3 separate regions of the Homo sapiens genome follow, and all the other regions are linked to region 3. Evidence: fine-mapped expression QTL. A gene starts in region 3. Each other region holds a variant in brackets. All regions are shown on one strand. Distances are between the middles of the regions. Region 1 has its middle 17 kb from the start of FAM157D. Region 2 holds the start of LOC124901806 (a long non-coding RNA gene). Region 3 holds the start of LINC03014 (long intergenic non-protein coding RNA 3014).

What was found. PIP is the estimated chance that this variant, and not a neighbour inherited with it, causes the effect. A credible set is the group of variants that fine-mapping cannot tell apart.
Region 1: its variant is the best candidate, but not a certain one, in a credible set for the expression of LINC03014 in monocytes (Quach 2016, PIP 0.63).
Region 2: its variant is the best candidate, but not a certain one, in a credible set for the expression of LINC03014 in activated CD8 T cells (Schmiedel 2018, PIP 0.58).

What each region holds. Positions count from the first base shown.
Region 1 is chr7:48,047-56,429 of GRCh38, reverse strand. No RefSeq gene overlaps it. Among named protein-coding and RNA genes, the nearest start is that of FAM157D, 17 kb to the right of the region's middle. The variant T/G (reference allele first, on the strand shown) is at 3,816.
Region 2 is chr7:178,867-187,249 of GRCh38, reverse strand. It overlaps LOC105375116 (TRIO and F-actin-binding protein-like), which reads right to left. Exons shown (of 4, transcript XM_017012903.3): 4 at 6,524-8,238. The coding sequence ends at 8,035. LOC124901806 (a long non-coding RNA gene) reads left to right here and starts at 4,917. Exons shown (of 2, transcript XR_007060631.1): 1 at 4,917-5,124; 2 at 5,295-6,489. It overlaps LOC124901808 (a long non-coding RNA gene), which reads left to right. Exons shown (of 2, transcript XR_007060632.1): 1 at 1-352; 2 at 664-992. The variant G/C (reference allele first, on the strand shown) is at 3,919.
Region 3 is chr7:146,581-154,963 of GRCh38, reverse strand. It overlaps LINC03014 (long intergenic non-protein coding RNA 3014), which reads right to left and starts at 5,246. Exons shown (of 2, transcript NR_108065.1): 1 at 4,832-5,246; 2 at 1-1,555. LINC03015 (long intergenic non-protein coding RNA 3015) reads left to right here and starts at 5,526. Exons shown (of 3, transcript NR_134325.1): 1 at 5,526-5,635; 2 at 6,346-6,432. RefSeq lists an enhancer at 5,501-5,795.

The DNA of each region.
Region 1 (8,383 bases), 99 kb after region 3:
AGCTGTGGCATATGGGTACTGCCTGTACTCTCTGGCTCACTTGCTTACTCATGTATTGCTTGTTTGCGCAGCACCTGCTCTCTGCCAGACACTCTCCTGGGTACAGGGATGCAATATCCCTCATGAGCTCAGACACATACAGGACAGCCAGACAATACAGCAAAACAGAAGTGAACACTGTTTTAGATGGTGAGGAGTGGCAGGAGGGGAAATCATGCGAGAAAAAGCAGGAGTGCAGATCATGACGGAGGGAAGTGCTGGAACCCAGAGGGGAGGCTTCAGGTGGTCCTGGGCTGAAGCAGGGGCTGGGTCAGGAGGAACAACTGAGGCTGGACGCAGAAGAGAACAGGGTGACCGGGCATAAGGCAGGGGGACACTGTTTGAGTCTTGGATGGAGAGAGTGTGAGTTGGGTGCAAAAATCCTAGAGAAGTAGCTACGGTCTGAGCTGCCAGGCACCAGGAGCGGGAGCTGTGAGCATACTTGTGGCCTCCCACCTGAGGCCACAGGAGGGAGACTCATAGGATGTCCTCCCTTTGCACTTGCTGCTTAAGGTCTCAGGGTGTCAGAGATGAGGACGTGTGTTCATGTGATCCTGCCCCTAGTGGGTCAGCTCATGAAGCAGGGAAGGCTGCCCAAGCTGACGCTAAACTCCCATAACTACCCTTGACCAAGCAGGTCTCTGAAAGGGGACTGTGAGTCCCACTGCAGGAAGGGACAAAGCTTAAAGCACCAATTCGCATTTTATCCTGAAGACCTGAGAGTCTTTCAAACTTATAGAGGTTTTTTTAGTTAAAGAAGAGGAGAAAATGTAAAGAAAAAGGAAAGGATAGGAATAAAATAGACCTTGAAAACCCAATGGAAACAAACCAAATTTGGCTTCTGATAATATAATTTCATAATGCTTCATTGAAATATCATGTACTTACAGAAAAGTGCTCAGTAGATTTTGAAAAACCAAGCTCACCCTGTGGCCATTACCTGGACACTGGAGCAGGGTGTGAGCTGCCCGCAGTGCCTCTGTGGTCCCTCCAGCGTGGCCTCCTCCAGGGAAAACACTGTCCTTACCCCAGCAGCACAGACTAGTTTCTTCGTGGAATTTCTTTTTCCCAAGGACCACAAAGGAAGCAGGGAGGCAGGGAATGGGGGGCAGTTTCCCTTCTTAAAATAATGTGACTGGAGGGAAAGTGGATACAGGCGGGAACCCTCAGCAAGCTCCAAGGAGCCCCACCGCCATTCAGTATCCGTCACGGAGCAGCCACAGTGAGGCCAAAGTTGCAGCTCACATTAAGAACAATTAACAGTTTTACACCACTTTTCCACATTCTTTTTAAAAAATTACGTTCTTGCATTATTTTCCCCATATGGATTTTTAAACATGAGAGTGCCTAAGTCGATTGGACGGAAGTTCAATCTGGTCTTGATTACCTCTGACTTCGTGAGTTAATGAGCGCTAAGTAACTCACCTTTCCTTTAATCTGGAAGCAGTGGCCCTGCCTGTGGGGTGGGGGACACAGGCTGAGAGTGGACCACAGGCTCCGAATCACCTATTCTGGTGCATGTGTCCTACTCTCAGGCCACAGATCCACAGGGTCAGACTGAGCTGCGGGGAGTGTGGCCCCACCCTGTTTCCCTTAAAGCAGGTTACAGAGGATTGACCTAGTGGGGTCACAGAGAGCACCGTGAGCCTGAGACCCAGGCTCTGGTCCTACCTTATCACGAACTCACTGTGGGCCTCAGCCTGGCCAGACCTCTCTCAGGGTCTCTGTTTCTGCATCTGTATAATGAGGCCCCATCTGTAGTGTTAGATGGAAACTGAGTAAGGACTAGAGGGGTTGGGGGTGATTCACCAACTCTTTACCCCTCAACAGAGCAGAAGGACAGCTTCCAGAGTGTGCTTCCAGAGGGCCCTGGGCGTGTTGAGTCCTAAGAGGAAGGAACCCCCATCATCATGGTACATGCTGTGTAACCCCACAGCCTGGCTCACTGTGTCCACTGGAACCCACGTCCTTGGGGTCAGAAACCTGGAAACAGCCACTCTGTTCACAGAGAAGCAACCTTTCAGTGTTTTCCTTTCCCCTTACCACAGGGATGGCCGTGTTAGAATTACACTCCTCTACACCAGCCAGGTGAGTTACTGCAGGCTTATGACTTCATAGGTCACCTGGCATGCATTTGTAACAAAATCTTTGATGTGATAAAGCAACAGACTCCATTGCAAAAAACATTAGCAATCTCTCCTCACTAAGTCACAACTTTGATAAAGTGTTTTCTATTCAAAAAACTTAGTGCAATTATGGTGCAGAGCTGAGATCTCAGCACAATTTCATTTACAATCAACCTGGCATCTCCAATGCACTAATTGAAGCATTATCACTATTGTCTTCCGTATGAAATATGCGCAAAGTATATTTCTTTCCCTTTATCCCCCCAGTAAATAGCATATTCTGGACATGTAGCATTTCAATGAATGTGGCAGTAGGCCACGGGGACCACTGACCCTCACACCTGAGAGGACACTGAGGCCCTTGGAGGTGGAGAGACTGCCCAATGCACACAGCTCATGTCAGTGCCTCTGTGATGGCTTTCCCCCCAGGTGACTGTCACCCCAACATTTTACTGACACACACAGAGTTCCTGGCTCTGTCCTCCCACCAGCAAACTTTGTGCATAGCCAGAGTCTCCTCCCGCCTGCTGCACTTGGGGTTTATAGAGAGCACTTAGGCCTGCAGGAGCTAAGATTGCACAACTGCACTCCAGGCTGGGGAACAGAGTGAAACTTCATTAAAAAAAAAATCCACAGCTAAGTTGATGCAAAAGCAGCATCTAAATCATAGACTAGAAAAAGCAGCCACCACATGTGACAGTGAAGCTTCAGAAACTGCCTTTGGGAGGTAGGAGCAAGGCAAAGATATGCCCTTTCTATGTACCCTTTCTATGCAACCTCGGGTAGAGTTACCGGCTTGTGCAATAATGCAAGAAAATGAACTAAATGTGGAACAATGGGTCAGGAATAAAAGGAAACCATCATTCTTTATTGACCCTATAAAAATCTACATTTTAAAAGGTCATAACAAATAAGAGAGTTCAACTGGACACAAGACTAGTAAACAAAACTATCAGCAGTACCCAATTCATAATTATAAAAAGCAATTTCATTTGACATCAACAAAAGTTATCAGTTACCTAGGAATACATCAACTAAGACAAGGGTAATAACTTTATGAAAAAATAAAGATATCAGTGAAGAATATTTTTAAAGATGTCTATAAATGGGGAGGTGTGGTGAGACCTGCATGGTAAAGCGATGAAGTCTCCCCAAGTGAGGTGATGAATTTGATGCAGTTCCCACCAAGCACACACCCATGGGGACACGTTCACCTGCATCTGTTTACGTGTTTTTTAAAACTTGACTGGCTGACTCCAAAAACAATACAGGACAATAATAACCAAGATACTTTTAAAGGAGAAAAAGTAAGTCGAGGATACATTACACCAGATATAAGCACACCATATAAATCCATTGCAATTACAGCCACATGATATCTTGGTAGAAGAGAAAAATAGACCAAAGGAAAAGAGTACAGAGCACCAAAGAAGACCCTCTTCTGTGTTGAAACTTAGTCTATTAGAAAACAAATAAAGTGCCCAATCGTTTGGGCAATTGGCTCTTCATTTTGAAAAAAGATACCTTTAGATCTATACCTCAAGACATACACAAAGGTTATTTTCAGGTGGACTGAGAAACTTTATAAATATAGCAAGACTCTTTAGATGAAAATATAAGAAAATATATTTTGAATACATTTTGTGGATT[T/G]CGCAAAATACATAGAAAAATCACATGATCAAAAGATTAATAAAATTGACTAAAATTTAATAATAAATATATCTATAATAATTTTTTAAAAAATAATAATAAAATCTAAACTTTCCCTTCCACAAATGATATGGAGACTAGGATAAGGTATTTGTAAAACATCTTGTGAACTAAAGATTTCTATTGAGAGTACTTAAAGGTTTTTAAGTGGTGCTGGCTCCCCTCTTAGGGGACTCTTAGTTCAAACAGGTTTCCTCTCATGGCTGAAGTGTTGAGTGCCTTTTCCACTCCCGTTCTCTCACAAGTGTGCAGAGGCAACTGACGTGTGATGTCACTGCAGACTGAATACAGAATTCCACATGGGAAACTTGTTTCCCAGGAGCCAGGCAGCAGGAGCATTCACACATCTAAACAATGCTACTCCTGTCACCAGTTTCTAAAGAAAATATAGTTATTTTCGTAACATGTTATGTTATGAACATAACATAATCCTTGATGTTCATTAGCATAATGGATTCATTATGAGTTTTCACTAATTGGTTACTTAATGTGATGGTTACTATTGTCAACTTGATTGGATTGAAAGATGCAGAGTATTGTTCCTGGGTGCGTCCGTGAGAGTGTTGCCAAGGGAGATTCACATTTGAGTCAGTGGACCTGGGAGAGGCAGACCCACCCTCAATCTGGGTGGGCATCATCTCATCAGTTGCCAGTGTGGCTGGGATAAAAGCAGGCAGAGAAATGCGGAAGGACGAGACTGGCTGAGTCTTCCGGCCTTCATCTTTCTCCCACGCTGGATGCCTCCTGCCCTTGAATACCGGACTCCAAGTTCTTCAGTTTTGGACTCTTGGATTTACACCAGTGGTTTGCCAGGGGCTCTCGGGCCTTTGGCCCCAGACTGAAGGCTGCACTGTCGGCTTCCCTACTTTTGAGGTTTTGGGACTCAGACTGGCTTCCTTGTTCCTCGGCTTGCAGCCTACTGTGGGACTTCACCCTGTGATCGTGTGAGTCAATACTACTTAATAAACTCCCTTTCATATACACTTCTATCCTATTAGTCCTGTCCCTCTAGAGACTAATACTCTTAAGATTTTAAATTGTTCTCCATTTTCATCTTTAACATGGTAAATGTTAATAGATAAACCATACTTATTAGGGTTCTCAATTACTTCTTATTATTTTTTTAATTGACACAATATGGCACATATTCGTGGGGTTCACAGGGATGCTGCAGTACATAGAATGAATCAAGGATTAGATCAGGGTGGCGAACACATCCATCGTCTCAAACACGATAATTTCTCCTCCTAGCTATCTGAAACTATGAATTATAGTTAACTATAGTCACCCTACAGTGCCAAAGAACCATAGGACTTATTTTTCCCATCCAGCTGTAATTCCATATCCTTTAAAAAATCTCTCCCTATCCGTCCCCTCTCCCTCCCCTTCCCAGCCTCTAATATCCTCTGTTCTACTTTTTACTTCTATGAGAGCAACATTTTTTAAAGTTTCCACATGTCAGTGAGAACATTCAGTATTTAACTTTCTGTTCCTGGCTTATTTCACTTACCATAATGTCCTCCAGTTCCATCCGTTTTGCCATGAATGACAGGACTTCATTTTTTTTTACAGATGACTAGTATTCCACTGTGTGTATATACCACGTTTTTTATCCAGTCATCTGCTGTTGGACACCTAGGTTGATTCCACGTCTTGACTATTGTCAATAAACATGGGGTTGCAGATATTGGTTTGATATACCGATTCCTTTCCTTTGGATAAATGTCCAGGAGTGGGATTGCTGGATCTTATGGTAGTTCTGATGTGGGGCAGGTGAGCCCCAAGGTGGAGTTTAGTCTGCAAGGGTTCTTGCCTTTGCCCAGGAAAGAATTCAAGGGCAAGCCAAAGGAAGAAGAAAACAGCTTTATTTATTTAGAGACGGAATCTTGCTCTGTCACCCAGGCTGGAGTGCAGTGGAGCGATCTCGGCTCATTATAACCTCCGCCTCCTGGGTTGAAGAGATTCTCCTGCCTCAGCCTCCCAAGTAGCTGGGATTACAGGCACGCACCACGACGCCCACCTAATTTTTGTATTTTTAGTAGAGACGGGGTTTCAACATTTTGGCCAGGCTGGTTTTGAATTTCCCACCTCGTGATCCGCCCACCTCAGCCTCCCAAAGTGCTGGGATGACAGGCGTGAGCCACTGTGCCCGGCCAAAAACAGCTTTATTAATAAAGAAGAAATGTTACAGCTCTGAGACGGTTCCTGCAGAGCAGGGCTACCCTCTCTGCCCTGTAAGAAGAGAAGAGCAGCTCGGGGCAGTTTTGCAGTCATGTTTAATCCACTTTTAATTTCACGCGGATTAAAGACGGTTTATGCAGAAATTTCTAAGGAAGGCATAGTAACTTTTGGGTCATTGAGTCATTGCCATGGAAAGGAGCGGTAACTCCCGGTGTCGTCATGGCAACGATAAACTTCCATGGCACTGGTGGGTGTGTCTGATTGAAAGCTGCTTCCGCCCCAGCCCTGTTTTAGCTAGTCCTCAATCTGGTCCGGTGTTCGAGCCCCACCTCTGGAGTTGAGTCCCACCTCCTACCTCAGTTCTGTTTGTAGTTCTGTGAGGAACCTCCACACTGCTTTCCACAGTAGCTGTACTGGTTTACATTCCCACCAACAGTGTCAAGAGTTCCCTTGGTTATTTTTTGTCTTTTTGATGAACGCCATCACAACTGGGGTGAGATGATATTTCTTTTTTTTTTTTTAATTTTTTTTTTAATTATTATACTTTAAGTTTTAGGGTACATGTGCACATTGTGCAGGTTTGTTACATACGTATACATGTGCCATGCTGGTGTGCTGCACCCATTAACTCGTCATTTAGCATTAGGTATGTCTCCCAGTGCTATCCTTCCCCCCTCCCCCCACCCCACAACAGTCCCCAGGGTGTGATGTTCCCCTTCCTGTTTCTATGTGTTTTCATTGTTCAATTCCCACCTATGAGTGAGAACATGAGGTGTTTGGTTTTTTGTTCTTGCGATAGTTTACTGAGAATGATGATTTCCAATTTCATCCATGTCCCTACAAAGGACATGAACTCATCATTTTTTATGGCTGCATAGTATTCCATGGTGTATATGTGCCACATTTTCTTAATCCAGTCTATCATTGTTGGACATTTGGGTTGGTTCCAAGTCTTTGCTATTGTGAATAGTGCTGCAGTAAACATACGTGTGCATGTGTCTTTATAGCAGCATGATTTATAGTCCTTTGGGTATATACCCAGTAATGGGATGGCTGGGTCAAATGGTATTTCTAGTTCTAGATCCCTGAGGAATCGCCACACTGACTTCCACAATGGTTGAACTAGTTTACAGTCCCACCAACAGTGTAAAAGTGTTCCTATTTCTCCACATCCTCTCCAGCACCTGTTGTTTCCTGACTTTTTAATGATCGCCATTCTAACTGGTGTGAGATGGTATCTCATTGTGGTTTTGATTTGCATTTCTCTGATGGCCAGTGATGGTGAGCATTTTTTCATGTGTTTTTTGGCTGCATAAATGTCTTCTTTTGAGAAGTGTCTGTTCATATCCTTTGCCCACTTTTTGATGCGGTTGTTTGTTTTTTTCTTGTAAATTTGTTTGAGTTCATTGTAGATTCTGGATATTAGCCCTTTGACAGATGAGTAGGTTGCAAAAATTTTCTCCCATGTTGTAGGTTGCCTGTTCACTCTGATGGTAGTTTCTTTTGCTGTGCAGAAGCTCTTTAGTTTAATTAGATCCCATTGGTCAATTTTGGCTTTTGTTGCCATTGCTTTTGGGGTTTTAGACATGAAGTCCTTGCCCATGCCTATGTCCTGAACGGTAATGCCTAGGTTTTCTTCTAGGGTTTTTATGGTTTTAGGTCTAACGTTTAAGTCTTTAATCCATCTTGAATTGATTTTTGTATAAGGTGTAAGGAAGGGATCCAGTTTCAGCTTTCTACATATGGCTAGCCAGTTTTCCCAGCACCATTTGTTAAACAGGGAATCCTTTCCCCATTGCTTGTTTTTCTCAGGTTTGTCAAAGATCAGATAGTTGTAGATATGCAGCGTTATTTCTGAGGGCTCTGTTCTGTTCCATTGATCTATATCTCTGTTTTGGTACCAGTACCATGCTGTTTTGGTTACTGTAGCCTTGTAGTATAGTTTGAAGTCAGGTAGTGTGATGCCTCCAGCTTTGTTCTTTTGGCTTAGGATTGACGTGGCGATGCAGGCTCTTTTTTGGTTCCATATGAACTTTAAAGTAGTTTTTTCCAATTGTGTGAAGAAAGTCATTGGTAGCTTGATGGGGATGGCATTGAATCTATAAATTACCTTGGGCAGTATGGCCATTTTCATGATATTGATTCTTCCTACCCATGAGCATGGAATGTTCTTCCATTTGTTTGTATCCTCTTTTATTTCCTTGAGCAGTGGTTTGTAGTTCTCCTTGAAGAGGTCCTTCACATCCCTTGTAAGTTGGATTCCTAGGTATTTTATTCTCTTTGAAGCAATTGTGAATGGGAGTTCACTCATGATTTGGCTCTCTGTT
Region 2 (8,383 bases), 32 kb before region 3:
TCTGTGAAGGGGGCACCGCGATGTATGGACAAGGGTGGGAAAGGGATGCTGGGCCATAAAGTTTGGGGTGCGTGATGGTGTGGAGGAGAAAGCCCTCCTGGGAGCTGTGGCCAGGGAGTGTGCAGTCCACGAGCAGATGGAGCTTTATGTGCCTCCCACCTCCTCCCAGGGGCCCCCCACGACTCGCTGAGGCCCCATCAGCAACAGGATGACGGGTTTTCTTTCCCACACAGATCGGGGACGTCCCAGCCTCCTGAGGTGGGGCAGAGGCGGGCACCGCAGCCCAAGAGCTGGCTTTCCCCCTGCACCTCCACCCATGCGTTGGCCTGGAGTGGCCCAGCGGAGGGTCCAGGTGGGGGTGCTGGAGGGGCCCACCCAGCTCAGGCCTGGCACCTGCACCTTTCTGGATCCCACGATGTTTTGCTGAGGGTTACTCATCCAAGACCTGCCCGGAGGCTCCGAGCTGTTTACCACAGGCCAGCTCTGGCCGTAGCCTATTCTGGGAGCCTGGGGGTGCTGGGAGGAGGCTGGGGCTCTGGGTGGCAGGAGGAGGAGAGCCGTCTTGTCCTTACTGAGCGTCCAGCGGGCGCCAGATGCTGCGCCGCGTGCAATTCTAATCCTGGCCGGCAAAGCCAGAACGGGACAATATTCCTTCCTCCCCAGGCCTCCCGCTTGGCTGTGGGTGCTGACGGGCAATGGGCCTGGCTATCGGGGCTCACAGGGGAGCCGGGAGAGCCGCTAGCAGGAGAAAATGTGAGCTCTGCATCTGCTGGGCTGGGTTCGGGGGACGCGGGGTGGCTGGGGAGGGTCGTGCTCGTCCCTCCGGCTGCTGTCGCTGGCCCGCCGGCCAGTCCGCCCCAACGCTGGACTCCTGGGCTATCCGTTCCCCACCCACCGTCTGAGGGTCTTTGAAAATAGAACTCATTCGTTTTCATTAAAAGCAACCGATCAAGAAGCCGAAAACACAAGAATAAAACAATGTAAAAGCTTGACTTTATTTTGTATCCGTCAAACACAGGACTCACAGTCCGTTACACATGGAGCATTCGCAACACTGATCATGTTCTGATGGTCACACAATGTCGGGAAATTCCAAAAGGCAGATAATCTAGAGTCTGTTCACGGCATCCACACACACACACCGGTGCACAGGCACACGAGCACACAGTCTACAGATTGTTCGTAGACACAGTGTGGTATAATGAACAAAAGCTGGCTTTAAAAATAGTTCTACCTGGGCCCGGTGCGGTGGCTCACGCCTGTAATCCCAGCGCTTTGGGAGGCCGAGGCGGGTGGATCACCAGAGGTCAGGAGTTCGAGACCAGCCTGACCAACATGGAGAAATCCCGTCTCTACTAAAAATACAAAAATTAGCCGGGTATGGTGGCGCATGCCTGTAATCCCAGCTACTCGGGAGGCAGAGGTGGGAGAATCGCTTGAACCTGGTAGGTGGAGGTTGCAGTGAGCCAAGATCACGCCACTGCACTCCAGCCTGGGCAACAAGAGAGAAACTCTGTCTCAAAAAAAACAAAAATTAGTTAGAAGGAAGTGGGTCAGATGTGGCCCCTACGGCCTCTCAAACATAGAATTCTTAGTTCTCTACCAAGAAACTACTTAAAGCAATGACCAGACTTCCAGGCCTACATATTAGTTATATGAAAGAGTCCAAAAAAAGTCCAGGGGCTGGGCTCACAGGGGCTCACACCTGTCATCCCAGCACTTTCAGAGGCCTAGGTGGGTGGACTGATTGAGCTAGGAGTTCGAGAGCAGCTGAGGAAACAGAGGGAGACCCCATCTCTACAAAAAATAAAAACATGAGCCGGGCGTGGTGGTGCGTGCCTGTAGTCCCAGCTTCTCAGGGGGCTGAGGTGGGAGGATCTCCTGAGCCCAGGAAACCGAGGCTGCAGTGAGCGGTGATCACACCACCGCAGCCCGGCCCGAGCAACAGCTGGACCCTGTCTCAATAAAAACCCAAAAATCAAAACAGCCAGACCTCTGCTTTCTGACCCTCGTGGGCCCTGTGAGGCCGCAGCCTGAGGGAGAAGATGCCCAGGGCTGGGACAGCCGCACCAAGTTCCTGCCGGAGTCGGGGAGGCCAATCCTGCCGGGGGCCCCGGAGAAGGCAGAGCAGAGGGCACAGCACCCAGGGATTCAGCCGGCCCCGCGTCCTGGGGATGCTACCTGACGGGGTGCTCTGTGCCCTAAGGGGCCCTTGAAGGCAAGGGGATGGGCTGCAGGCCACCGAGCCCCAAAGCCACATCCCCAGACCAGACAGCCCGAGGAACTGGAGGAGGAGGGAGGAGCTGGCCCCACAGCAGACGGCACTTGGCGTGGCCGCAAGCTGGGCCGGCCTTAGCACTTTGCACGCAGAGTCTCAGTGAGTCTTTGCTACAAAGCACACGTTGCTATTATTGTGGTCACTATTTTTACAGAGAAACTTGACCTCTTCGCCAGCCTCACCCATTCAGCCCTATGCTGGGTTTAAGCCATCTTGGAATTCTGGACACTTAGGAACAAGAAGCCCACATCTGCTTCCCAGGGTCCTGCCCTTCCCTGGGGGTCCCCGTGCTGGAGGCAGCAGTTGGGGTGTGGGAAGGAAAGGCCAGCGCTGTGGGAGGGGCTGGGCTGAGGGTGGGCTTGGAGCCAGCACATGGGGGCTAGGTCCGGCTTGTCCCTCACCAGCCAGACGGCACTGGGCATGTCAGGGAATCTCTCAGAGCTCAGTTTCCTGCTGTGGGAGGGAGCTGCTGGCTCTCACCTTGTTGTGAGGACTAAACTAGCTGCCATCTGTGGCCTGCTAGTCATGGGGCTCTGGTCCTCTTGTCACTGGATCTTGGCCTTGACCTCCCCTTCTCTCTCGTGAAGCTGTCGGCTGCGTGGAGACACAGCCACTTCAGTCCTCTCATAAGCCTATGCCCAGCATCTGCCAGGGGCCAGGTCCTGGGCTAGTAACCTGGCACTGGGAGCCCAGGCTCCGCTCTTGTCCAGGGGAAGCTGCAGCCTTGGGAAAAGCAGGTGGGAGACGCAGATTCTAAGTACCTGACCGAGGGACGCCTCGAGGACGTGAGGGAGGCCGGGCACCATCCGTGGAGGGGCCCTGTGAGCGGGCCCAGCAGATAGACAGGGAGCACCTCCATGGAGGAGACAGAGAACCCCTGTGAGGGCCCCGTGGCTTCTGCAGCTCCCGGTGCTGGCTGTGGGTGGTTTGCCGGTCGGCCTGCCTGTAGTTCTCAGTGGCCGCTCGGAAACACGTCCTTTCTTATGAAGACGCAGACGTCACAGCCGAGTTGAAAGGAATCTGAAGAGGATTTGGGTGCTCCTCTGTCACAGCCTAGATCATCGCGAGGCCACGGCCCCCCAGGACAGAGGGGCCCGGGGAGGGTGGGGACAGGAATTGAAGACATGATCAATTAAATCGTCTCCTTCCTCCAATAGGTAGAGTATGATCCTGTGTCCATCAACACTTCCTAACGTGCATGTAGAAGCTAAAATTGTTAAGATTTGCGAAATACTTTTACCTCGAAGTTGGCAGTGACATCATTCTGTTTTTTCCTGGGTGCGGAGGAGTAATTTCAGAAGGAGACATTTTGTAAAATTAAAAGGTATTCACCAAATATTTCATGCATGAGTGTAATCTACAGGTTTGGTGATTAGGGATGAAAACGCATACATTAGACAAAAAAGATTGGATATTTAGAAGCAAATTTGAGATTCAAGTGAGGATAAATTACAGGGAACCTCTTATCAGAGCCCGTACATGCCTGGGTCTGGAGTGAAAGCCTCGGGCTACGGCCTCAGGTGTGGAGGAGGTGGGGTTCTCTCTCCTATTCAGCCTCCCCTTCCTCCTGGGGAAGCTGCTGTGCTGTCGCTGGGGCTGGGCCATTGACTCCCTGTACCCCACCAACCCCACCACCAAAG[G/C]GGTCAGTTCAGGCTCCAGCTCCCCCTCCCTCCCCAGCTGTCGGTGCGAGCCCAGCTGTGCCTGCCCTTGGTCCCCACAGGCTCTGTCCTCCGAACACCAGGCTCTGTGTGGGCCCTGGGAGTCCTGGCCCGAGGGGTCTCCCCCTGGGGAGCGCTTGGGAGGGAAAATCCTGCTCTCAGGGTCTCTGAGTCCAACCAAGACAAAACCTGCTCTTCTCAACAGAGGCATGAGCTCCTCCTTCCTGGCAACCTGGGGGATCACAAAGACAGACGGCACCTCCCCAGGCACCTGCGCCTGTGTCCGACGGCAAAGCCATTGTCAAGCGAACCTGATGCTGTCACTGGTCACCCGGAGCCCATCAGCATGTTGACCCGGGGCCCATCAGCATGTTGAAGGCACTTTCTTGCTGTTACAGGGGAGGAACTGCTAAAGAGGCCACCAGACACAGAACACAGTGATAGTTTTAGGTGTAAAATTATTGCACACAGATAAATTCTGGAAACAGCTGCCTAGAAAGTTCTTTATATTGGAAAGTGTGCTTTGAGGTCATTATGCCGGATTTTATGGCCATTTCTTGGCTGAGCCCCGGGATGGCTTATGTCTTTGCAGAAAGGCATCATCACATTTTATGAATGACAGATGGCTTTTACCACACCTTTGCATGATCGCTTATGGTAATAGGACTGCGGTGCCCTGAGACGTGGGGATCTGCGTGAGTGCCCCCGGCAAAGTCTGCTCTTCCGGCCTCGAATCTGGATCCCAGGTGAGGCCTGAGGATTTTATTTCTTCCTCTGATCTCCCTGCCGGCGGGGCCACTGTGGCAGGACAATTCGGGGCCCCGCCCCCCAGATGTGCAGGTGCAGGCCAGTCTCGGGGGGATCGGCGGCTCCCGGGGGGCTGTGTCGGGGGGATCGGCGGCTCCCGGGGGGCTGTGGGATGGTTCCTCTGTCCCAGGGCTCCCGCACGGGAGGGCTTTGCACGTCCACCCCTCCTTTCCTTGGCTAAAGCCTGTTCTTACCAGAAGGTGAAATGAAGACGATTCCTTTTGTTCGGTCCCCTCCACTCCTAAACTCTGTCTAGAGCAGGGGTGGGCTCCCTCCTTGTCTGTGCCGCCCACTCGCCTCCTCGCCTCCTGTCGCCTCCACTCCTGACCCCCATCCAGAGTGTGGGATGCTGGGTTGCCGGTGACCATGGGGAGCCGTAAGGTGAGGGAACCCAGCTGGAGACCAGGGCCCACACCAAATCGTGAGCCTGTTTTTGAAGCTACTGAATGGGTGGAACTTGACTGTTCAGGGGACCCTGGAGGACTCACTCCTTTCCACCTGTGTCTCTGCTGGGTCTCACCTGGCGCCCCTGGCGATACCTGGCTCTGCAGTGGAGCAGTCACCACCGCACCCTCCCCGTAGCTCCATCCCCACGCGTCCAGGATAGCGTGGCCGCTGGTCAGCTGCCGACAGCACACATAAGAAGTCATGGATGGGTCCGAGCGGCTTCCAGGACTCAGCACCCAAAGCAGCCCCGTCCTGACGGTAACAAGCCTGCCCCATGGGGCGAGGCCCTCTCCCCTCTTCCTCAGATTCACCCAACCCACTTCTGTCTGTCAAGAGCAGGCTTGAGGAACAGTCAAGCTTGAGTTCTCTTGGCCTTTCCTGGACATCTGTCCTGAGGCTGCTCTCATTTAAGCCTCACGGAGGAAACCCAAGTTTCTGCAGCAGGAGAGGGGCGTGACCCCAGGGACAGCCGGAGAAGACGGTGTAGAACCAGCTGTCACGGAGCCTGATGTCCGGCCTGGAGCATCAGCCCATCACCTTCAGAGTGGACCCGAGGGCCTCACCTGCCACCTGGGGGACAGGTGAGAGGCGGCCAAGGACCCCAGACGATGAGGGGCAGAGTGTCTGCACTTGTCACCAAAGGCTTCCAGGGAAAAGCGGGGATGTGTGGACAGGAAGGGGCCGGCGGGTGGGATCAGGGCACTGGGCGAGCCAGCTTCCAGTTATGGGGGCTGCGGGCAGGGGAAACTCGAGCCCCTTGCGGCTCCAGCCTTGCCAGGGAGCCCGAGAGCTGGGCTGGCACGCCGCTCTGTGAAGGGCTGGACGGTGTGCTTCAGGCCTCGAGGTCACTCTGCCTCTGGTGCAAACGCTCACCTCTGCCGCTGTGGCCCAGAGCAGCCTTCGACCCACGTGATGAGTGTGTGTGGCTGTGTCCCCACATCTCCTTGTTTATGGATGCTAAAATTTGAATTTCCTATAAGTTTCACATGTCACAAAATAGTCTCTTGATTTTCCAACTATTTAAAGATATAAACATCATTTTTAGCCCTCTGTTGGACAAAAACAGAGGCTGACTTGGGCCCTAGAGCTGTAACTTCTACCTCTGCCTTAGATGACTCTTTTTAAAGCATTCTAGCTGGGCCTGGTGGTTCCCACCTGTGGTCCCAGCTACTCAGGAGGCTGAGGCACGAGGACCTCTGGGTCTGAGAGTTCGAGGCTGTAGTCAGCCGTGACTGCACCCAGCCTGGGTGACAGAGCGAGACCCTCTCTCAGTAACTAAATAAATAAAAGACAAAAAGAGGTAATTTTGTCTGGATATTGTAAATATAGGCTATTTCATGAAGTTTCAATTTATTCACACTTTTTAAAGCGCACTGTGTTGCAGCAGGACTCATACCTGCTGTGTAGCTCAGAGTTTGTGAGTTTCCTCCTGGACTTGGAGACAGCTCACGTCAGTCCAGCCCCGGCCAGGCGATGGACAAGGCCGGCTCTCCTAGGTGGCCCTAATATCCGACTCTCTAGCTCACTCCACTCAAAGCACCCGGGACGGCCCCTCTTGTGGCGGGGGAGCCCCCAGGGAGGCTGAGGCCGAGGGGGCGGGTGCCAGCTGTTGCCCAGCTCCATGTGTGAGAGGCGTGGATTCTCCAGGTCAGGTCCGCTCCAACAGACCATTCCACAAGGAGCTGGTGTGACCTCCGAAGCAGGGTCCTGGCAGGAGGGGTGTACACGCAGGGCTGGCCCTCCCTGGGGTCCCCCTGACGTGGGCGCTCCTGGGTCTGGGAATGTGGGTTTGCTTCCCCCAAGGGATCTGTTCTGTCTCCTCCCCTGCCTCCCTCCCTCCTCAGGGTGGGCTTCAGGCAGCAATCAGCTGCCCAGGGCCTGCCTGACCTCCACCCCCTGCACCAGGGACCTGGGGCTCCGGGGCCCACTAGGCACAGAGGCTCTCCAGCCGGGCCGTGGCCTGCCCCCTCCTCCAGTGTGGACCCTCCGGACAGCTCATCCCCCCGCAGGCCCCTCCATTTGGAGGCCCAGGCTGCTGTCTGCAGGGGCAATGGTCTGTGATGCCAGTTTTAAAGTACAGGATTACAGAAATCCTAAAATGTGGATTATTTCTGACCATCAGAAACCACACAAGCTACATTTGCTGAAATCCTATTGCTCTCAAGGGCTGTGGAAGAGACATAACCCGAACCTCAACCCTAACCTGGGAAGACCCAACTGCGACCCATACAGGGCTCTGGGGACCCGAGGCCTTGGTTCGTGCCGGCCACTCGCCTAGTGCTCCCTCCAACCACCCTTCCTGGAAAACTCTTACCCACCCTTCAGGAGCCTCGTCAGATATCACCACGCCTGTGAGCCCTCCTTGATGGGTTTGCTTCTCCTCCTCCCGGGCGGCCCCACGGCAGCTTGGCCATCTCACACCTCATCCTGGGCCAGAGGCCTTGAGAGCTGGGACTGCCTCACCCTCCCCTGTTGTCCCAGCCCACAGCCGGCGTTGCAGAGGGCCCGGCTCTCCCTCCCACTGTTCCCCGCTGCCTCTGGACCGTGTTCTCCCTGTCTCCTGCCCTGTCTCTCCCTCCGCTCCTCGAGGCACACATCAGCTCAGCCCCGCCTAAGCTCCTTCCCAAGGACAGCTTTGGGACCTCTTGTCCCAACCAAATAAACCCTGAGAGCAGCCAGCTACCACTTCCTGCCGCTGCGGCTTCATCTGGGACAGAAGAGTCCACGGAAGCAGCTTCTCTTTTCTTGGACTCCGGCAAAGGGGTCACTTGAGGCTGCAGCTGGAGCCGGTGTCCCCGAGGAGTCGCCGGGGAAGGTGCTTCCCAGCAGATCTTGGGATCACTGTCAGGAGCTTGAGAGGAGCCAACAGCGGCTAAAACAGCGATTTCTACAAACGTCACAATTCAGCAACAGGCCTGCTTCTGCCAACACTCGGGCGGCCGCTGCTGTTCCTGCCTGGGTCCGTTTTCCTTTAGACGCATCGTCCGGTCCGCACGAATCTAACAACCCTGACGGTTGCAATCTGCCGTGGGAGATGGAGCTTCTTACCTGTAAAATATTAGTGCTTAAAACCACAGCTGTGGGACTGGTGTGTAATTCCAGCTGCCGCTGCCCACCTGTCATCACGGAATTCGGAGATCACGTCTTTCCCTCCGCATCTGGACTCTACCTTTCGGCTGCCTCTGGTCTGGGG
Region 3 (8,383 bases):
TAGTAGGTTAACAAAAAAGAGCATGTGCTGGTAATTTATGTGCTGGTAAACATTTCACAGCTGGATCTCAGGAACAAAAATGCATGCATGCATATACATGGATAAGTGTATTATAAATTTCAGTGAAATAAAGCATCTGCAGTGTACAGTTTACAAATATAGTATACAGTACTCATTTTTGTAAATTGTATATGACCAATTGATTCTCGCAGAAAACATCGGCTCATTTCTGGAAAACTCGTTTCTGCAGGGAGACTGTAGCTGTATTTGACCAGGGAGGGTAGGCCCGACACAGATGCTAGTGAATGTTCTTATTTGCATTAATGAGTAAGACAAAACCAAAACGACAAAGCAGTCAGTGTGATCTCGTTTGTCAGTGACTTCTCTGCTGAACTGAGTAATTGTTTTTAAATGCCAGAAGAGTTCTTCAATTTTTTTGCTGTTCACAGTGCAATGGCTTCAACACTTTTAAGTCTAATCTGCATTATTAACACCTTCTCCATCAGTCTGAGTTAAAGGCCAGCTCTGGTTTGTAGCACTTGCTGGCGTCTGCAGCGTCAATGCATCCACCGTGAGCCACTCCAAGCTTCCACCTCGGCAGGGCTGAACAGGAGCACGCGGCGTGGGACGCCTAAGACAGGAGACGTCTCCTGCGGACCGTCCAGGCTGCTCTCGGGGAGGCTGGCCTGTGGACTTCATCCATGGGCTTCCATGGCCTCTGGCTTCCAGTCCTGTTTTGCCATTGGCGACCCCTGGCAGGGACTGGCAGGAGGCAGGAGGATGAGGTCTAGGTCTTATTCTCCTATGGGGTCATCTTAGTCTCTGTCTGGCCCTCGGTGAAGGTCATGGCATCTTTCAAGGTGACTCTGTGCAACCTGACTTCCAGAATCCATTAACTGCTCCTCCCCTCCTGCCTTCAGACCAGGGTGAGAATAGCTCTGCTATTATTAGGTCCAGAACACTGCACTTTTTTGGTAGTTTTCCAGCCCTCTGCCTATGTCTCTGCAAACAGTCCCCTTACCAAGCCCTCTGGGGATGACGCTAGTGTGCCCTGCGTTCCCGCTGGGACATTGACACAGACAGAACCCATACAACAGCAGAACTCCCCAGAGGACAGCCTCACCACGTGCACAGTGAACGGCCTGTGTGGGTGCTCCAAGACGACAGCCTCACAGCGTGCACAGTGAACGGCCTGTGTGGGTGCTCCAAGACATCAGAGGGGTCCCAGAGTTCTCCAGAAAAAATAACTATTCCACGTAGCTGCTAGCGTGAGACGCTGGGCCAACCCGAGCATGTGGGGAAGGCACCTTATGCTCTGCCATCACCCACAATGTGATGGTCTTGGGGGTGGGGCTTTCCGAGGTGAGTAAGTCATGAGGACCCGTTGTCGTGGAAGGCTTGAGTGCCCTTATAAACGAGGCCTGAGCTGGAAGGCGCTGTGAGGAACAGGCCCTCCCCAGATGGCAACTTGGTCTTGGACTTCCCAGTCCCCATAAATGTGAGAGATGATTGTCTGTTATTTTAAGCTTCCCAGTCAGTTACAGCAGCCAAACTTCTATCAAAAATAATAAAAGAACAGCAATTAGAAGTTTAAGAAATAAAAGGTCTTAGTTTAAATATAAAGAAACTTAAATGTGGCAGGAATTTAAAGAAATAATGGAGGACAAGGAGAAAGCGCATCTGACCTTAAGGCTGGGAACGATTCCTTTGAGTGACTCAGGGGTTGTGGTCCTGGGCCTCAGGGAGGGACATATTCGCCCAGCAGACGGCTCAGCCCTGGTGCACACCCTTCATACAGATGTGCACCAGGGGAAATTCAGTTACGGTTAAAGGGCTAAATGCATACTTCATCAGCTCATCAGCTATAAAAGCAATCCTCTAATAGGATCCGGGAGATGAAAGAGGGAGTGGGGAGGGAAGGGTGGGGCTGGAACCTCCTGGCATTACAGGGTAGGGACCACCGGACACTGTCAGAAATGACGCGACAAGAAATAGCCTTGAGTACTTTCAATTAAAGCAACAAAGGCAACCACAGACAAGCCAGGCCTACTCCCACCACTGCCACTGCTGGCCGCGAGGGAGGAGGCCAGCAGAGCCCAAGTCCCTGGCGCGTCAGTGCCGCTGTGCTGCTGGTCCCCGCTCACCTCTGCCTCGTTTTCGGGCTCTCTGTGTGTCCTGACACCTGTGCCTCTCACTTGGTGGTCTTTCCTCCGTCCCTTCTTGTTTGCCCGGCCCCTCTTACAGTGTAGCACTCTAAAGCAGCTTTTCTTTATGGAAATCTGTTTATTCCAAAGCTCTGAGGCAGTGTTATAAATATTGGTTTAAAACATTAGCCAGGGGATTACTGATAAAATATAAAATAGAAACAATTTCCCAAGGAAACTTCATCTAAAAATACACCAGTTTCCCCTCTCACCTCACTTGAGTAGAGGCACCAGAGGGTGTGTCAGGACCTGTCTCGGGGTGAAGGTCTCACTTCCTCACGCCTCTCCCACATGGCTCCCAGGAATCCCCCAGGAATGGCTTGGAAAAAAAAAATCTGTGACAATGGAGAAGAGTTGCCCCCAAAGAAACGTGCATATAAACAGCTCTTCCAGCTAGAGAAAAAAAAATTCTGCATAAATAATTCAGATTGCTGAGCTTGGTCCCTCATGCCTGTAATCCCAGCACCTTGGGAGGCTGAGGCAGCAGTTTGAGACCAACCTGGACAACATAGCGAGAGCTGGTCTCTACAAAAAATACAAAAAATTTAGCCAGGCATGGTGGTGCCTGCCTGTGGTCCCAGCTACGCAGGAGGCTGAGCTGGGAGGATCACCTGAGCCTGGGAGGCTGAGTAAGCCAGGATCACACCACTGCACTCCAGTCTTGGCGATGGACTGAGACCCTGTCTCAATGATCAATAATAATAATAATTCAGACAAACCAGGTCGAAAAATGTCCTGAGACGGTGAACTCAGGACCCAGCTACCTGGGGTGGACACTGTGGCTGATGGACCGGAAAGGGTAACACCAAAGGGCTCTAGGAGGTGTCTCATGTCTGGCTGTTGTCACTCCCCTTGGCCGCTGAAAGCCTTTCTGTTCCCCAGAATCGAGTAAGGAGCTCCTGGACAGAAGTGGGGAAGGAGTCTTCCTGCTCAGGGCTATGTTACTTAACTCCGTTTAAGTGACAGAGCATGAACAGGTCATATTAGTGTCACATGCACCCGATTTCATTCTCCATTTGCAACAATGAAGACTGTATAACGACATTGTTAAATACCCCAGAATTATAATTAAATCTTATTAGCCAATAGAATCTGAGTGTGCTAAAATCTCTATTAGCCGGGACTGATGTAGCCACGATGGCCATGCTCGGCGCGGCGGCTCACACCCGTAATCCCAAAGCATTTCGGGAGGCTGAGGTGGGCGGATCACGACGTCAGGAGTTTGAGACTAGCCTGGCCAACATGATGAAACCCCGTCTCTACCAAAAATACAAAAATTAGCTGGGTGTGGTGGCACGCACCAGTAATCCCCGCTATTTGGGAGGCTGAGGCAGGAGAATTGTTTGAACCCAGGAGGCGGAGGTTGCAGTGAGCCGAGATCCTGCCATCGCACTCCAGCCTGGGGGACAAAGCCAGACTCCATCTTGGGTGGGGGTGGGGAGGAAGAGGAGAGAGACCAAGCAGCAATATCATCGATAACAAATTACAATCCAAATTCTAGGCGGTGTTCTGGGACTGGTTCACATCCAGCTTGGTCTGGCCTTGCCACTCCCACAGGGCAGGACACACTGAGGTCTGCCTGGGGGTGCCTGCTCTGGCGGCTGGGCTCCCCGCTTTCTGCAGGCTCAGGTGCCCCCTATTCCTGCAGCCCTTCCTGGACCCAGCCTGTCCTCATCTCAAACTCGGGGCTGCTGGCCTGAGCTTGATCCCTTCACCGTTTCTCACTAATACGTCACTCTCGCCTCTTAAAAGATGACAAAGACTCTCTCCTTTGACCACACTCGAGTCAGGCTCCTCTGAGCCCTCCCTGTGACCAGTCCCTGACCTTGGCCGGTTTCGGCCGATTTAGCAAGAATCCTGCTGAGTCGGTTTAGTGAAAATCGTCTACTCTTGGTCCCTGATCAAAGTCCTCAACTCCCACCCTCGGTCTGTGACCACACTGCCTGCCTTTTCAGCAAAAATCCTGTCTATGCAGCTAGAACCCGCCTTGCCCCTGACCCTTCCTCTTAGTAATTTTCTCTCCACTCCCGACCCTACGCCTGGGCTGTCAATTCCCACTTTTTCTATCTGGAGTTGAGCCGGATCTGCCTCCCCTAACCCAACATCTCGCTTTAGCAGCCCCCCCACCTTGAATAAAAGCAGCCTTGCCCTCTTTAACAATTAATAAGCACAGACTGGGACAGGACATCCCCCTCCATCCCAGCGCCCATGCACCCTCAGCCACGGTCCTCAGACCTCAAGAAACCCAGCGGGTGACAAGCTTGGGTGTCAGCGGGGCTGGGATTGCTGCTGGGGGCACAGGAGCTCGGGAGCACTTTGCAGGTGAGCAGGGCCTGGACAGGGGCTTCTCTGCAGCCCACCCCTGGGGAGGACTCCGGGCCCTCGCCCTGGACGGCAGAGCTCGTTTTGCTGTTGCCCTACTGTCTCCGCGACCTTGGGGGTTCACTTAGCACCCCCAGGCCAACACCTGGCCTCTCCATGCACCAACACCTGGCCTCTCCTTCCCTGGCCTGCCGCCCTGCCTGTGTCTGGACTGTGGTTCACCGAGTGTGCACGTGGGCCTCGGAGGCTGCCCTATAGAGCCCAAAGTCCCAGGGAGGAGCAAAGGGGACCAAGTGCACACTCACCCAGCTTCCTCTGCCCGGCAACGTCCCTGCCCCCATCTCCCCTCCACCGCCACCAGGGCCTGCATCCCCATCTGCAAAGGGGACAGGGTGCCCACGCCTTCTGAAGCACGCGCTCTCCAGGCCGCTCTCCGGGCGTCACCCCGCCCTGCTCCCCTCGCCCCTGCACAGCCCGAGTCCAGCCTGGTCGCTGCCATCAGGACGATCAGGACCGACCGCCACCATCAGTGGGGACCGGCCAGGGCGGTTAGGCCCGGTCCGGGGCCCCAGGTCCCGCGTCCCCGCCGAGGCCAGGCAGGGAGGCCTGGCTGCCCCGGGCTTTAGAACCAAAATAAGCCCCGAAATGATTGGCGGCGCCCATGCGCCAGGAGAAAACCTAAAGGACGAACGTTCCCGAGTACATATAAGGACGATTAATATTTATTGCACAACTTTTTTTTTTACTTCCTTGTTAAAGAGGAAAACCTTACGCTAAAAATAAAACGACTAGGAGCCCTTGTGCCTGCGTGGGTGGCGCTCGCGCCTTTAAACCTGAAGCCACAGGGGCTCAGCCCCCCACCCGCGCAGGGCGGCTCCTGCGCATGCGTAAACAGAAGGGGTCGGGGCGCGGCCCAAGACGACGCCAAGGGAGCGGACGGGCGGGGAGGAGGTGGCCTCTGCGCAGGCGCAGAGAGGAGCGAGCGACTCCTGCGCAAGCGCAGAGTGAAGGGCCGGGAACAGTGGAGGGTGCGAGGAAGACAATGGGGGAGGACCCTGAGGCGGCCTCTGTGAGCCGACAGGAACACGTGGTCGATCAGAGAGAGACTCGTAAGTGCACGGAGCTGATGAGGTGACTATGGCGTTGCGCAGGCGTCCTGTAGAGGCGGGTTGTCATCGGCGCAGGCGCGGTGTGGAGGAAGCCCCGGCGCCGGCGCAATGAGGAGGCGGCCGGACTCGGCGCTGGCGCAGTGTGGAGGAGGCTCCGGCGCAGGCGCAGACGCAGGGCGGGCAATGGCCGCCTGGGTCTCTCGGGCAGCCCTGCCCACCTCTCTCGCGTCTCCTGGTCTTGGCCTGCGGCTCTCTTTCTGGCAGGTGCCGCGGCGTCTCCTGCGGGCCTGACCGTGTTCTCCCGCCTAGCCAGGCTCTTCTGCGCTCCTTTTTTGTTGAGATTTTTCCATCCCCTGCACAGGAAGTGTCCTTTAATTACTCCAGTGTTTTTTTAGTTACTTTTTAAGAAACATTTTGGACTTTTCGATACAGAATAGTGTCAAAAAAAAAATTTAACCTTCTTCAGGTTATATTTTAGTGAATGATATTAATATATGTTCCAAAGTTGTATGGGATTTCTAAAATTCTAATTTTTCTGAGTATATGCTACCGATCATAATTATGGTTATGTTGTTGTTATAACCAAATTTCTTTGTCAATTGTGTCTTTTTGAGTATTTAAAGTCATTTCCGCAGTTAATTGCTTCATGCTGATGTAGTTTCTGAAAACTTCACAAGCACACAAAAATCCTAGAACATGGTGTCTTTTAGGAGGTTCGTGAACGGATGGGGAGGACCCTGAAAAGCACTGTGGAATACAGGTTTCTAGTAACTTCAAAATCACATCATTTGGACTGGGTAAGAATTGCTGAAACTTTAATGAAAAGACTGACTGGCTTATAAAACTGCTAACCCAAATAGAATAAAAATTAATTGAATACCGAGGAAATGCTTCACCAGGTTTGCATACTTAATCAGCCTATACTGAAATTGTTTAGATATACAATTTGAATGAACTCCATGGTCTAAGTCAAATTACCTGTGATAACCCATCAGTTATCCATGCTATGTGCCCAATTTGGAGAAACAACTGGCACCCAAGAGGACATAAGTCCGATGTTAAGCATGGACTCATGGAGAACCAAGATGGCTGCCTTGTCCTTCGTGAGTCCTTAAAGCTTTTGTTATTAAAAGTTATGCATTCCATGACTCATCCTGGAAAAGATAAAATGATCCAAATTAAATATGTTGGTGTGGTGACTTACAGATTGTTAAAATAGTTTATAAACAATGTTTAGTTTGTCAAACCCATACTCCTGGGAAGTCAATCAAAGCTTCATGTACATTTGGCTACCTGATGAGGCATTTAAACATTTATAAAGGGGTTTCATTCAGTTGTCATTTTCAATGTATGTGTTCTGGTTGTACTAAAGCTTTCCCATGCAGGAGGGCTAATGTTATAACAGTAGATTACTATGTATCAGTGTATTTTCACCAGGTAAAGAGCTTTTTATGGTTCACTGAGGACAATCAACCCCTTCACAATCTAGAACCCAAAGATGGGATCTTCTGAGAACATCAGAGAAACGCTGCCCTTGGCATCATCACTGCAACAAAACATCAGGATCTTGAACCTTGGGGTCATAATCTCACAACTGAGCAGGGTCACTCTTGGAACTCTACATCCATTGAAACCCTTAAGGTAAAGCTAATCAGGGAAGTTTCTCCCCAGAAGAAGATGGCATCCTTGATGTGAGCAGCTCTTTCTGAAGATCATGGATCAAGACTTCTTACTATCATGAGACTCTTATCTTTGAATGTTTTTCCGTTGCTTCCGCCTCTGTGAACAACAGAAGTGAGAAGGGGGTCTGTTTTGTGCACTTATGGGGTATACTTTTATTTGTGAAGGGCTTTGCAGCCAGCTTTATACATGGATAATCTTATAACTTGATAGATAAAGATGAAGGCCCAGTGTATCATAGGTGAGAAACTTCAATGGTACATATGGTGCCTCATAATCATTCAGAAGCAGAACATTGGTTCACTCCTCTTAACCCACAGCATGGGTTAAAGAGACCATTGCCAAGAGGCCTTCCCTCTTCTAGAAGGGCATCATTTGTTAGGTCCTTTTTCCATGGTTTGGAATTAAAAAGGCAATGACTAGAAACATATCCCTCATGGTAGACTCTGTAGCAGATTCTACTGTAAAGGCTACACAACAGATGTTAAATTCTCTTGTGAAAGTTATGCTAAAAAATAGAATTGGCTAAACAGGAAAGTACCTGTGCAGATGCTGGCACTTAAGGCCTATGGAGAAAACATCAGGTGTTATAGAGAGTCTGTTGTAGGGAATTAACGAAAAGACCACTGAGTTAAGTCAAAGAATGGTCTATTTGAGTTTAGGTGGTCTGGTTTATGGGGACCCTGGCTAAGGAGCATACTCCAAATTCTTGGTGTTAACCCTCTCAGTAGTCATAAGAATAGTCTCCCTGGTGCACTGTATTCTCTCAAAGGTTTTAAATGTTTGCATGAAGCCATCTTTAGAACGTCAGATGGTCTCTCTTCAACTGGAATGACAAGAGCTGAAAGAAATGTGTGACCACGAGGACACCGAAACCGATGAGTGACATGCTGAGACTGGAAATCCAAAATGATAGTAACGGAGAGTGGCGCTAACATCCTAAGTTTTGGTCACACTCTTGCCTAAGTGACAACCTGACAAAGGGGGAATTTTTTAAACAAAATGATGGGAGGCCATTGTTTTGGACTGAGCACTAGGTCCCAACAGACCAAACCGAACCAAAATGGC